3 linked regions of the Homo sapiens genome follow. The protein of the gene in region 2 interacts with the protein of the main gene of each other region in a pairwise test. Each region holds a gene or a part of one and is shown on either strand. Other genes may lie near its edges.

Region 1 (3,652 bases), on a different chromosome or scaffold from region 2:
AGGTCCAGTAAGTCCCAAGACTTTTAGAGAGAATGCAGTATGGTAAAACTGAAATAATACCTCTCAAGAAGACAGATACTTGGGTTCTAGAGGATCCACTCACAATCAACAAGTCTCGATTTCCATAGTCCTTAGATCCCTCAAATATAAATTAGGAAAATTATTTTACCTGCCTGAAGTTGAGACCAAACTAAATAATCTCTTGAATAGTATGATTCTATAAGTGACTGAAAGTGCAATCTTGCTTCTGAAATTTGAGCTACTGTCAAAAGCGCTCAGCAACATTGTGAACTGAGCATATGGCCTTAACTCCAGGGTGCATGGGTAGGCTGGGGTAAAGAAAAGACAGAAAAATTAAAAGCCCAGGCCCGTGCCACTTATGGGAGTGGGGCCTGAGTTTATGCAACCCATGCAGAATGAAAATTCCAAGGTGAAAAAATAGTATGAACTCAAATATCTATAAGAATTAATGAACACTAAAGATAATACTTCAAGTATTAGGAAAAAGGGATTATTCCCCTGTTGGGGAAACATGTTGGGACAACTAGATAACCTTCTGTTAAAAAACACAACCCCTTGGGAGGCCAAGGCGGGTAGATCACGAGGTCAGGAGTTTGAGACCAACCTGGCCAAGATGGTGAAACCCTGTCTCTTATACTAAAAATATAAAAATTAGCCGGGCACGGTGGTGGGCGCCTGTAATCCCGGTTACTCAAGAGGCTGAGGCAGGAGAATCGCTTGAACCCGGGATACGCAGGTTGCAGTGAGCCGAGATGGCGCCACTGCACTCTAGCCTGGGTGACAGAGCAAGATTCCTTCTCAAAAACAAACAAACACCCACCACCCCACCAAATTTGGACTCTAATTTCACATCTTAAAGCAAAATCAATTTCAAATGGAACTAAAAAACTGAGACCACAGAAGTACTAAAAAAACTACAGATTTTTAAAAACAATTTTAAGTGCATAAAGTCTTTAAATATAATACATAACTTAGCAGCTATAAAAGAAAAGATAAATTTGAATACATAAAACCAAAACTTTGTGTGGTTCAAAAAAACACCATAAATAAGTAAAAGGACAAACTAGAAAAAATATTTGCGGCAAAGGCTGATTTACTTTATAAAGAACACCTAAAATCTGTACGATCAATATGATGATTGAAAAACTGCAGCAGGGCTGGGCGCAGTGGCTCATGCCTGTAATCTCAGCACTTTGGGAGGCTGAGGTGGGCGGATTGCCCGAGGTCAGGAGTTCGAGACCAGACTGACCAACATGGAGAAACCCCGTCTCTACTAAAAATACAAAATTAGCTGGGTGTCGTGGCGCATGCCTGCAATCCCAGCTACTCGGGAGGCTGAGGCAGGAGAATCGCTTGAACCCAGCAGGCAGAGGTTGCAGTGAGCCGAGATTGCATCATTGCACTCCAGCCTGGGCAACAAGAGTGAAACTCTGTCTCAAAAAAAAAAAAAGAGAAAAACTGTGGCAAAGGATATATGAATAAACAATTTGTAGAAAAGGCATCATAAATGACTCAACTTTTTAAAAAGAAGTCCAACCTCATTAAGTAAATGAGAAATGTAAATTTAAACAAATATTGAGATACCATTTTAACCTCTCAAGAGTGACAAAGACCAAGAAGCTTAATACCACGTTTTTGGCAAGAAGTGAGAAACAGGCATTTTCATCAAGTGTAAATTGGTCCAACCTCTCTGAAGGGCAGTTTAGAAACAAGAATCCAAATTAAAAATATCCATACCCCAAGCCTCGGTAATTTTATTTCCAGGAATTTACTTTATAATCATAATTTTACACACATGTGTAAAATGACATGTACATATTTATTGCAGCATCATGCAATAACAGGAGACTGAAAACAAATGTTAACAGTGGACTGTTAAATTATGACTTATTCATAAAATAGAATATTATGCATGTATTCAAAAGAATAAGATGGCTCTCTATACTGATGTCAAAGGCTCTTGTGATATTAAAATATTGTGAAGGGTATGCATAGTATACTATAATTAGTGTGGGGGGAAAGGAAGATATCCACATGCTTGTACTTGCACCCAAAATAGCTCTAGAACAATACGTAGACTGGTGCTTTGCTGCTATGGAAGGGAACATGGTGGCTGGGACTAGTTGTGGGAAGTAGACTTATTTTTCACTGTATATCCTTTTGAATTTTCTATTTTGAGCATGTATTACTTAATTTAAAAAATCATTGTTTTAACTTACGTGAGGCCCTATTTTGCAACATACCCAAAGCACTTTACCTCTTTCACAACTTAGGGCTCATGGAATTTTACAGGAAATACTCCAAAATTAAAAAAAGTAACTACTGAAGATAATAAGTTCACAATAAAAAATATAAACTACATGAAGAAACAAACCATCATGGAGGAGTGGGCACATATAACAGATACAGAAGCAGATTAAAGAACTAAAGTAAATTTGCTTAAAATTATTAAGAAATGGTACAAAAGGAAAGATTAAGAGACATTAAGAATAGAATGAAAACCTAATGTATATCTATTAACAGTTCCAGAGGAAGGAACAGAGATAATGGAAGAGGCAATAAGTAACAGCAAATTTTCTGGGAAAAAAAAAAAAAAAAAAAAAAGGACAATATATCCACAGACTTGAGTAGAGTTTGGTACATGGTAAATAAAATCAAATCCATACCTGGACAAATCCTAGTAAAATAGCAAAACCCCAAAGACAAAAAGATCTCAACTACAACCAAAAGGAAGAAAAAGATTAATAAAAGTAAAGAGAAACTACAAGCCGACTCCTCACCAACAAGTGGAAGACAGTGGCATAACGCTACTCAAGAGTTGAGGTATAATAAGGTCAATTTACATTTTTTTTTGAGACAGGGTCTTGCTCTGTCACCCAGGTTGAGTGCAGTGGTGTTATCAAGGCTCATTGATCTTCTGGGCTCAAGCGATCTTAATACCTCAGACTCTTGAGTAGCTGGGGCCACAGGTGCATGTCACTATGCCTAGCTAATTTTTTATATTTTTGTAAGAGACAGAGTCTCGCCATATTGCCCAGGCTAGTCTTGAACTGCTGGGCTCAAGCAGTCCTCCCACCTTGGTCTCCCAAAAATGGTAGGATTATAGGCATGAGCCACTGCGCCTGGCCCAATCTACAATTTTATATTCTAAACCCAAACTATTATTCCTGAGTGAGGAAAAATAAAAAATTTTTTCCTGCCAGTGAAAAACTATAGGACACACCTCACTAAAATAAAAAGTGAACCCCAAAGAAATGAGATGCAAGAAACAACAGTGAATTAAAAAAATGATAACCATGTTAGTAAATTTAAACAAGGACTATATTAAAAAGATAATAATTTCATCAATTTTGGGGTGGAGTTTGAAAAAACAAAGTGAAGCTAAAGTCTAATAGTGATACTGTGGAAAACAGGATGGGGGAGGAATCAGAGTTAAAGCTTTCTAACCAGGGCCTCAACATATGACTATGTACAACGCAGGGGATACTATCCATATTTGTAGTCATGGCAGTTTTGCTTATTTATTAAGAAATAATCTGTCAAATGTCAGTAAAGTATCTTAAAGAGGCAGCTTTTTCAAATTGACACTAAAATGATGTTTGGCTAAAATTCTTATATTGTTCAGAAGCAT
Region 2 (3,652 bases):
GTATGATTGGGTATGGGAGGGGATGGTCAAACCCTCAAGGAAAGTATTCCACACCAGGCTTACAGAGAGGTATTTGCTGCCAGGTTTCTATGATTTGAAAAGCCATGCTTCCCCCAAGGCCGAATGACTATATTTCTCAGCCTCTCTTGTAAATAGGTGTAGGTGTGACCATGTCACATTTCATTAAAAGAAAAGGAGATTCATTCTTCCCCACCTCCTTTCTCCACCCTACTGCTTGAATCATGGATGAGATGGCTGGAGCTCTAGCAGCCTTTTGTTTCCTGAAGATGACAGCCAAACCCAAGAGATGGCAAAGAAATGAGCTAGAAAGTGTCTGCATCTCTGACAATTTCATGGAACCTCCATACCTCTCTCAGGCTACCTACTTCCAGACTTCTTTGAAAAGAGAGAAAAATAAATGATCTTACTTAAGCCCCTATCATTTGAAGATGTTCTCTTATACACAATCAATCCTAATCCTAACCAGAACACTAGCCAACCAGTCTACCCCATCCCCTGCCTTGTTCTACCCTTACCTTAGGTCACAGGGAATATTCTCCTCCCCGTTGCCTGTATTGACTTAAATCCTGCCCATCCTTTGGAGGATGGATCAGATTCTACCTCCCACCAGAGATTTCCCATCCGCTTCCTCCCTGAACTCAGACGCTGTCTGCCTGCCTCCCTTTGGGCACCTGGCCTGCTCTGCCTTCCAAGGGAGTGATTCACCCTTCCATATCTATCTCCTGACTCTTCGACCAGGCTCGGGACCATCAAGGCAAGGCCCATGCATTCCAGATCCTTGTATTCCCTGGGCCGGAGAGGCACTGGATACAATATCATAACGAATATCCCCACACTAAGCCTCTCTTACCTCTGCCCACACGAGGCAGATAAGGAGGGGGTGCCAGAAAGTATACAAACACATTTAGAAAAACGAGAAGGCAGGCGGAGTCAAAGTCAGTTAGTTAAAAATCTAAAACTATTTCTAATATTAAGATGTAGCCTGGGGGCAAGATCTGGTGTGTCTCTTTCAAACTACACAACCTAGATGTTAGACTGCCTCATGGCACGATGCCAGGAGGCCCCATTCATGTAGAAAACAACATGAGTGGCAACCCCCAGAGAGAGGTGAAGTGTCATGGTCATGCACCAGAAAAATGAGTCCTTTCAGAAAAAAATACCAAGTCACATGGCGCAGTGGCTCACACCTCTAATCCCAGCACTTTGGGAGGTGAGGTGGGTGGATCTCCTGAGGTCAGGAGTTCGAGACCAGCCTGCCCAACATGATGAAACCCCTCTCTACTAAAAATACAAAAATTAGCCAGGCGTGGTGTTGGGCGCCTATAATCCCAGCTACTCGGGAGGCTGAGGCAGGAAAATCGCTTGAACCCAGGAGGTGGAGGTTGTAGTCAGCCGAGATTGCACCACTATTTATTTTTTCACACTTGCAACATATTCTTCACAAATCGATGTCAATAACAAATTACTTTTGATTACTTAACAAGTATTTTTTTTCAAATATACTTTCTAAGAGCAAATACAGACAAGTTAAATGGTTCGCAATGAGCATAGTTCATTTGTAAAGACAGTATAATGTTTTAAAAAGTACACATTTTTTTCAGCTTATTGTCTGCAGCCACAATTGTTAAACTCAATCAAAGAGGCCCTGGAGGATTCGCCACTTAAGGCTGAAGTCGTAGCAAGTGCTGCCACGTTGGGGAAGATAGCGGCAGAGATAACCACTACTGGGGAAGTGTAAATGGAAATTTCAAATTTAGATTAAGCCTGAGTGGCGTGAAAACAAACCCAGCATGTTCAGGTGCAGTGTCCAGATGTTTTCAAAATGCCCTGATTGTGAGAGCTGAGAAGGGAGATGTGGAAAACAGACACTCTGGGGTCCTCACGGAAAGCAACGAGGCAGATTTGAAACCCACACTAAGGAGGCATTGTAAATGAACTCAAGAACATGAGCTTGGCACAGAAGGAACAAGTTGAGAGATAAGAAGTTTCCTGATTAAAATAACCCTAGTGCCTCTTTGAGATCTGCTTCTAGCACCAACTGACAGCTATTTCCAACGGCAGAAGACACCAAATGTCAATCTGTAACATGCTACAGGTCAATATTGCTTTCTTTCCTGCAGATGGTTTAAGCACAACTTAGCAACTCCTCTGCCGCCTCGTTTCTGCTGAAACTTCGCCGGGTTTTAACACGCCTGCCAAAACTGCCCCCTTCCGGGCCCAAGAGTCCAGGATTCTGTGCCAAGCCGCGTGGCCAGATGCCACTTGGGGATGGCGCCTGTGAGCACCAAAGCCTGCCCTTTTCGGGCTGAGTCACTACTTGTAACCACCAGGTGTCAGTAGCGAGTACGGAGACTCCCATCCGGAGTGCTCCGGGAACTTCAGCCAGACCCTAAAGGGGGAGAAACCGGATGCTGTGGCTTTGGGGACAAGCAGTGCTACGGTCACATTCTCAGGCACTCATGAGTATTTCATTTACTCAGTTGCCAACTCACCATGCAAACCCACCACGTAATTTCTGGGATGGCTTTAATTCAATGCCTTTCACACACTCAGAGACAAGATTAAGCACTGTTCTCACTCCAATAGGACTGGGACCTTTTCTCTGCTCCCTCCCCAACCCAGAAGGTAAAAACATAAAGCAGGGTTTTCTACTCCTTGCGTATCTTCTCCATGTAAATTACCAAATTATTATTTTAGCAGTTTCTATTTGTACTGTGGTTCAAGGAATTTGGTTTATAATGCTTCAGCTGGGGACATGCTTGGGTATTACTGGGTACTGAGCTGTAAGAGGGAAAGTCCAGCAAAGCAACTGGATTATGCAAAGCCAGGACCAAAGGCCACTTCACTGCCTGTTTTACTGAACTGGATCTAAACTGGTTTCTCTCGTCTGGTGTAGCATCTTGAACATATATACTGGATCTATGAGTAGCTCCAGCAACATTTAAAGCTGTATTTCCGTGGCCTTTTAAACCCAGGATGTTAGGAAAGCTCTGCTGTATCTCTAGGTCCTTCCAGCCTGAGGACACATCTTCTGGAACAAAAGATCATGTGGATCCAGGTCCACGGGCTCTTAACATCAATCGCTATGGCCTACCCAGCCACCAAAACAGCTCATCCTGTTTACCTCCACCTGTCTGCATCCAAACACACAGGGCTCCTGGCTGGGTGTTCCTTTCCCTCTGGGTGCCTTGGGTACCTAGTTGGTGCTTCTGCTGCCAATTATCCCTTAATTTGACCCTCATGAAGCCTGGCTTCCATATCTCACAAGCAAAGATGCTGAGGACAGAGGAGAAATACGATCTTCTGGATTAAGGACCCCAAGGCTTAGCTTAGGGTTTTGCAAATAGCTTCAAGTCCCCATCTTGCAACAAGGAAACATTCAAAGGTTTTGATGCTAGGTGGCATCACTGAGGCCCAAGACCTGGAAAGGCAGCCAGTCTTGTGTCCATGTAACTGACGGTGCAGTGAGCTAGCCCCACTGTCACTGCAGCAGAAAGGGGCAGGACATTTCTGAATAGAGACAGCCACCAAACCAAAGATACACGTTTGATCCAATGTCCCAAGGGGGTCTGCCAAAGGCTTAGCTATCATACCACCTTCACAGCTCCCAGGTCGATATTTTTTTCAATCA
Region 3 (3,652 bases), on a different chromosome or scaffold from region 2:
GGTCAGGAGAATGTCAATAACTCCAGCAGAAGAGAAATGGGCTCCTGTTTCTGAAAGATAATGAAAATAGAAGACACTTTTCACTGAGGGTAAAGCCCTTTTAGCAGCTCTAGATTTAGCCACAGAAAAATCACTCACTTTATTAAAAAAAAAAATAAATGAAAAAAAACAAAACAAAACTCTTCAAGCTGGCATTTGGCAGCAAGACAATGCTGAGAACATTTTCTCAACTCGGCTGGGAAAACCCGGGAAAGAACACGTTGAGGAAAAGAGGGTAACACTCTTCCGATCTGTTGGGACTATGCCAGAGAAAATCAGGCAACAGATTAAAGAGGCTTGTCAGTCACCCCACTGGTTTCAGGGGCACATTACTCACTACCACCTCTATGCAATGAGTCACCCCTTGCAGAACCCGTCACAGCTCAAGTTTAATCAACCTCACAGCAGCGGGAAGGTGCATCACTCTGTCTTCCCATAAAAGATGGGCCACTGCGGCACCAAGGCATAGAGGAAGAGCTACAAGTTACACAGGTGAGAAGAGTATCAGGGACAGTGTCCATGGGAGGGGAGGAAAGAAGATTCCCAGGCAGAGGTATGTGAAGCCCACTGAGCCGTGGGCTCAGCCATGGTGATCTGGTCCCAGGGAAAGAGGTGGTCACTGAGGCATCATGAATTCAAGGAGCACCTTCTGCTGCTACTCCTCATGGTCAGGCTCCTCATCACTGTCCTCCCCCAGAGGAAATTCCTTCGTGGGCTTCTGGGTTGCATACATCCGGGTCTCCATGGGGCAGTCCTGACTCAGAATAGCCTGCAGAGAGAGGCAAGAAGAGAAGCCACTGCACATTATTATCATTTTTTTTTTTTTGAGACGGAGTCTCGCTCTGTTGCCCAGGCTGGAGTGCAGTGGCGCAATCTCGGCTCACTGCAAGCTCCGCCTCCCGGGTTCATGCCGTTCTCCTGCCTCAGCCTCCAGAGTAGCTGGAACTACAGGCGCCCATCACCACGCCAGGCTAATTTTTTGTATTTTTAGCAGAGACGGGGTTTCACCATGTTAGCCAGAATGGTCTCGATCTCCTGACCTCGTGATGCGCCCGCCTCAGCCTCCTAAAGTGCTGGGATTACAGGCGTGAGCCACCGCGCCCGGCCAACCACCGCACATCTTTTTTTTACCAATCTCCTCATTCCGTCCTCCCACTAGTTCTTCCAAGGCTGGCATTGCTAAGTACTCAAGAAACATGCATAGGACCCTCTGCATGTACATGCACCAGCCTCCCGGGGTACCTAGTATATCAACCCTTGTCAGGACAAGTATCTCATTTGCTTTTAACTGAATTTAACAGTGGTAGTGAAAGTTACAGCAGGAAGCCAAATGGAATCACCACCACTCCCTATCACACCTTCATGTCTTCTTTTGTTCCCTTGAGCAGCCTCTGTCGGTATCCCAAACCCATCAGGCCCTCAGGATGTTTGTGCTGCAGTAAGAGGAAAGTGCTTTATTAAAGAAAATCCTATGGTATGGATCTCTTCCCTGGGGTTTTTGTACTTTTAAAAACGTGACCTGCTGACCAACATGGATAAACCCCATCTCTACTAAAAATACAAAAAATTAGCCAGACATGGTGGTACATGCCTGTAATCCCAGCTACTTGGGATGCCAAGGCAGGAGAATCTCTTGAACCCGGGAGGCAGAGGTTGTGGTGAGCCGAGATCACACTATTACACTCCACCCTGGGCAACAAGAGTGAAACTCCATCAAAAAAAAAAAAAAAAAGTGACCTGGTAAGGATAATGTTGCACTAGAGTGAATGAGTGGATGAACGGATGTGCCAATGGAATTCTGCCCACTTATGAGGGAGTTAACTTGGTAACTCACATCTTGCTAGTAACTAGCAAGCTAAGAACAGTAACTACAGGATGTCTTTGATGGTCCTCTGCCCCCATTTCCCTTCTCTACTGAAGACCCTTCCTGATAGCCCCAGAAAGAGGGAAGTGGTTACTTAGAGAAGGGAAATTAAGGAAGTGCACAAAAGAAATATGAAGATGAAAGGGGATTGGGAAACATGGCAAAGCAGAGAGAGTATCAACAGAGCAATAGAGGGAGGAAATAACAGCCCAGGATGAAAGGGAATGAGAGAGATGATGGAAAGAAACAGAAGTGAATTTCTCTTTTAACAGTCGGTGCTCCTTACAAGCTTCTCTTCCTTTGCCGGGGGGCTCCGCAGGTAGTAGCAGAGTGGAGCATAGACGATGTTGATGACCCCAGTGATGACCATGAGCCAGGGAAAACCGATGGCCTTTACAATGGCACCACCGGTGGATGGACCTGGGAGGGATACATCAAAGTCATAAGTGTCTATGGAGCCTCCATATGGAGCATCCTCCACGTAGGACACTATGCTAGGGGCAGTGGGTGACCCAGAGGATGTCTCAGCGTCAAAGATCTCCAGAACCCTAGGAGGATAGCTTCCTGGCTGCACTTCCAGCTGGTAAAGAGTAGACAGGGGAAAGTGGGGCACCAGGTCCTGCCAACATACCTATAGCAAAGCCCATGCAAAAAGCCACATCAGCGATGGCGTAGACACTCCCATACACCGAGGTGTGGCGTAGATCCACCAGGTGCCCCATGATGGGCATCATAGAAGAATCCACCATGCCTGTGGCCAGAGCAAACAGGACACAGTCAGCCCCACCCACAGTTAGTACCACCCCGCCTCTCCTCCTCCATTTAGTCCATTTGCTTTGTCTGCTGTCTTCTGCCTCGGACTAACACCTGTTCCAGGTGGGAATTACGAGCTCATCTCTCCACAACCCTGCCAGCTGCCCTCCTGATCCTTCTGCCTCTGCACCTACCTCCTCTGATGAGAAAAGGGGGAGGAAAGGCATCAGACCCAAAGCCAACATGCAGGGGCTTATTGTTTTCTTTGAGGGCACTTCTTACCTATGGCAAGGCCAAGCCCTGCATTGGGGCCAATGAGACCAAAAATATTGTGAGCCAGAGGAACCTGCATGGGGAAGGAGGAAGAGTCATCAGGACTCCAGATGGGTCAGGTGGGAGCAAGGTTCAAAGAGTTTTCACATGAAATGCATTTATTCAGAGTGCACTATTGGCCACATACATCATCCTCCTGCACTCTCAGACTTTCTCATGGAAAAGAATCTATACCTCCATTTTAAGGATATGAAAACTTGACCAGCGCTGTTGTGTTTATTTATTGCTCTATCCAGAGTTACAGATCTAATGAGTGGCAAGATCAAGTTTGGACCTCAGACTTGGCTCCATTATGCTCTAACGAGGGTCTTCCTCTGTTCCATGGATACTTTCTCCCCTTCCTCTACCCCTCTTCACCTAAACATACACTCCTGGTCTCATTCTTCATGGAATAAAGTTGCCTCTGTTTTCCATTATGGACATCACTGAAAGGTTTCATTTAGACTTCTAACTTGGTAGCTGTTGGAAAAAGAAGATAGAGAAGAGGCCCCAACAACCAGTTAGCTGTAAGCTAGAGGGGGCAGGTGGTGTGGCTTGGGTCCCCTGTCAGGAAGCTTGTGAGACTCATTCCCATTGCCCTCCCAATCCCCCAACAAAAACCCCTTCTTCCCTCTTTTTCAGGTTCCTTACCTCCCTCTCTGGGTACCTGCCATTCAAACCTGC

Evidence for each region.
Region 1: the proteins of PMP22 (region 2) and PGRMC2 interact in binary tests that used the Homo sapiens proteins (3 or more experiments, as listed by UniProt).
Region 3: the proteins of PMP22 (region 2) and SLC18A1 interact in binary tests that used the Homo sapiens proteins (3 or more experiments, as listed by UniProt).

What each region holds. Positions count from the first base shown.
Region 1 is NC_000004.12:128,277,751-128,281,402, forward strand, and holds part of PGRMC2 (membrane-associated progesterone receptor component 2), read right to left. Parts: intron 1-3,652. UniProt on the Homo sapiens protein: Required for the maintenance of uterine histoarchitecture and normal female reproductive lifespan. May serve as a universal non-classical progesterone receptor in the uterus.
Region 2 is NC_000017.11:15,255,175-15,258,826, forward strand, and holds part of PMP22 (peripheral myelin protein 22), read right to left. Parts: intron 1-3,652. UniProt on the Homo sapiens protein: Might be involved in growth regulation, and in myelinization in the peripheral nervous system.
Region 3 is NC_000008.11:20,145,069-20,148,720, forward strand, and holds part of SLC18A1 (chromaffin granule amine transporter), read right to left. Parts: intron 3,003-3,652; coding exon 2,939-3,002; intron 2,655-2,938; coding exon 2,535-2,654; intron 2,324-2,534; coding exon 2,190-2,323; intron 809-2,189; coding exon 695-808; 3' UTR 1-694.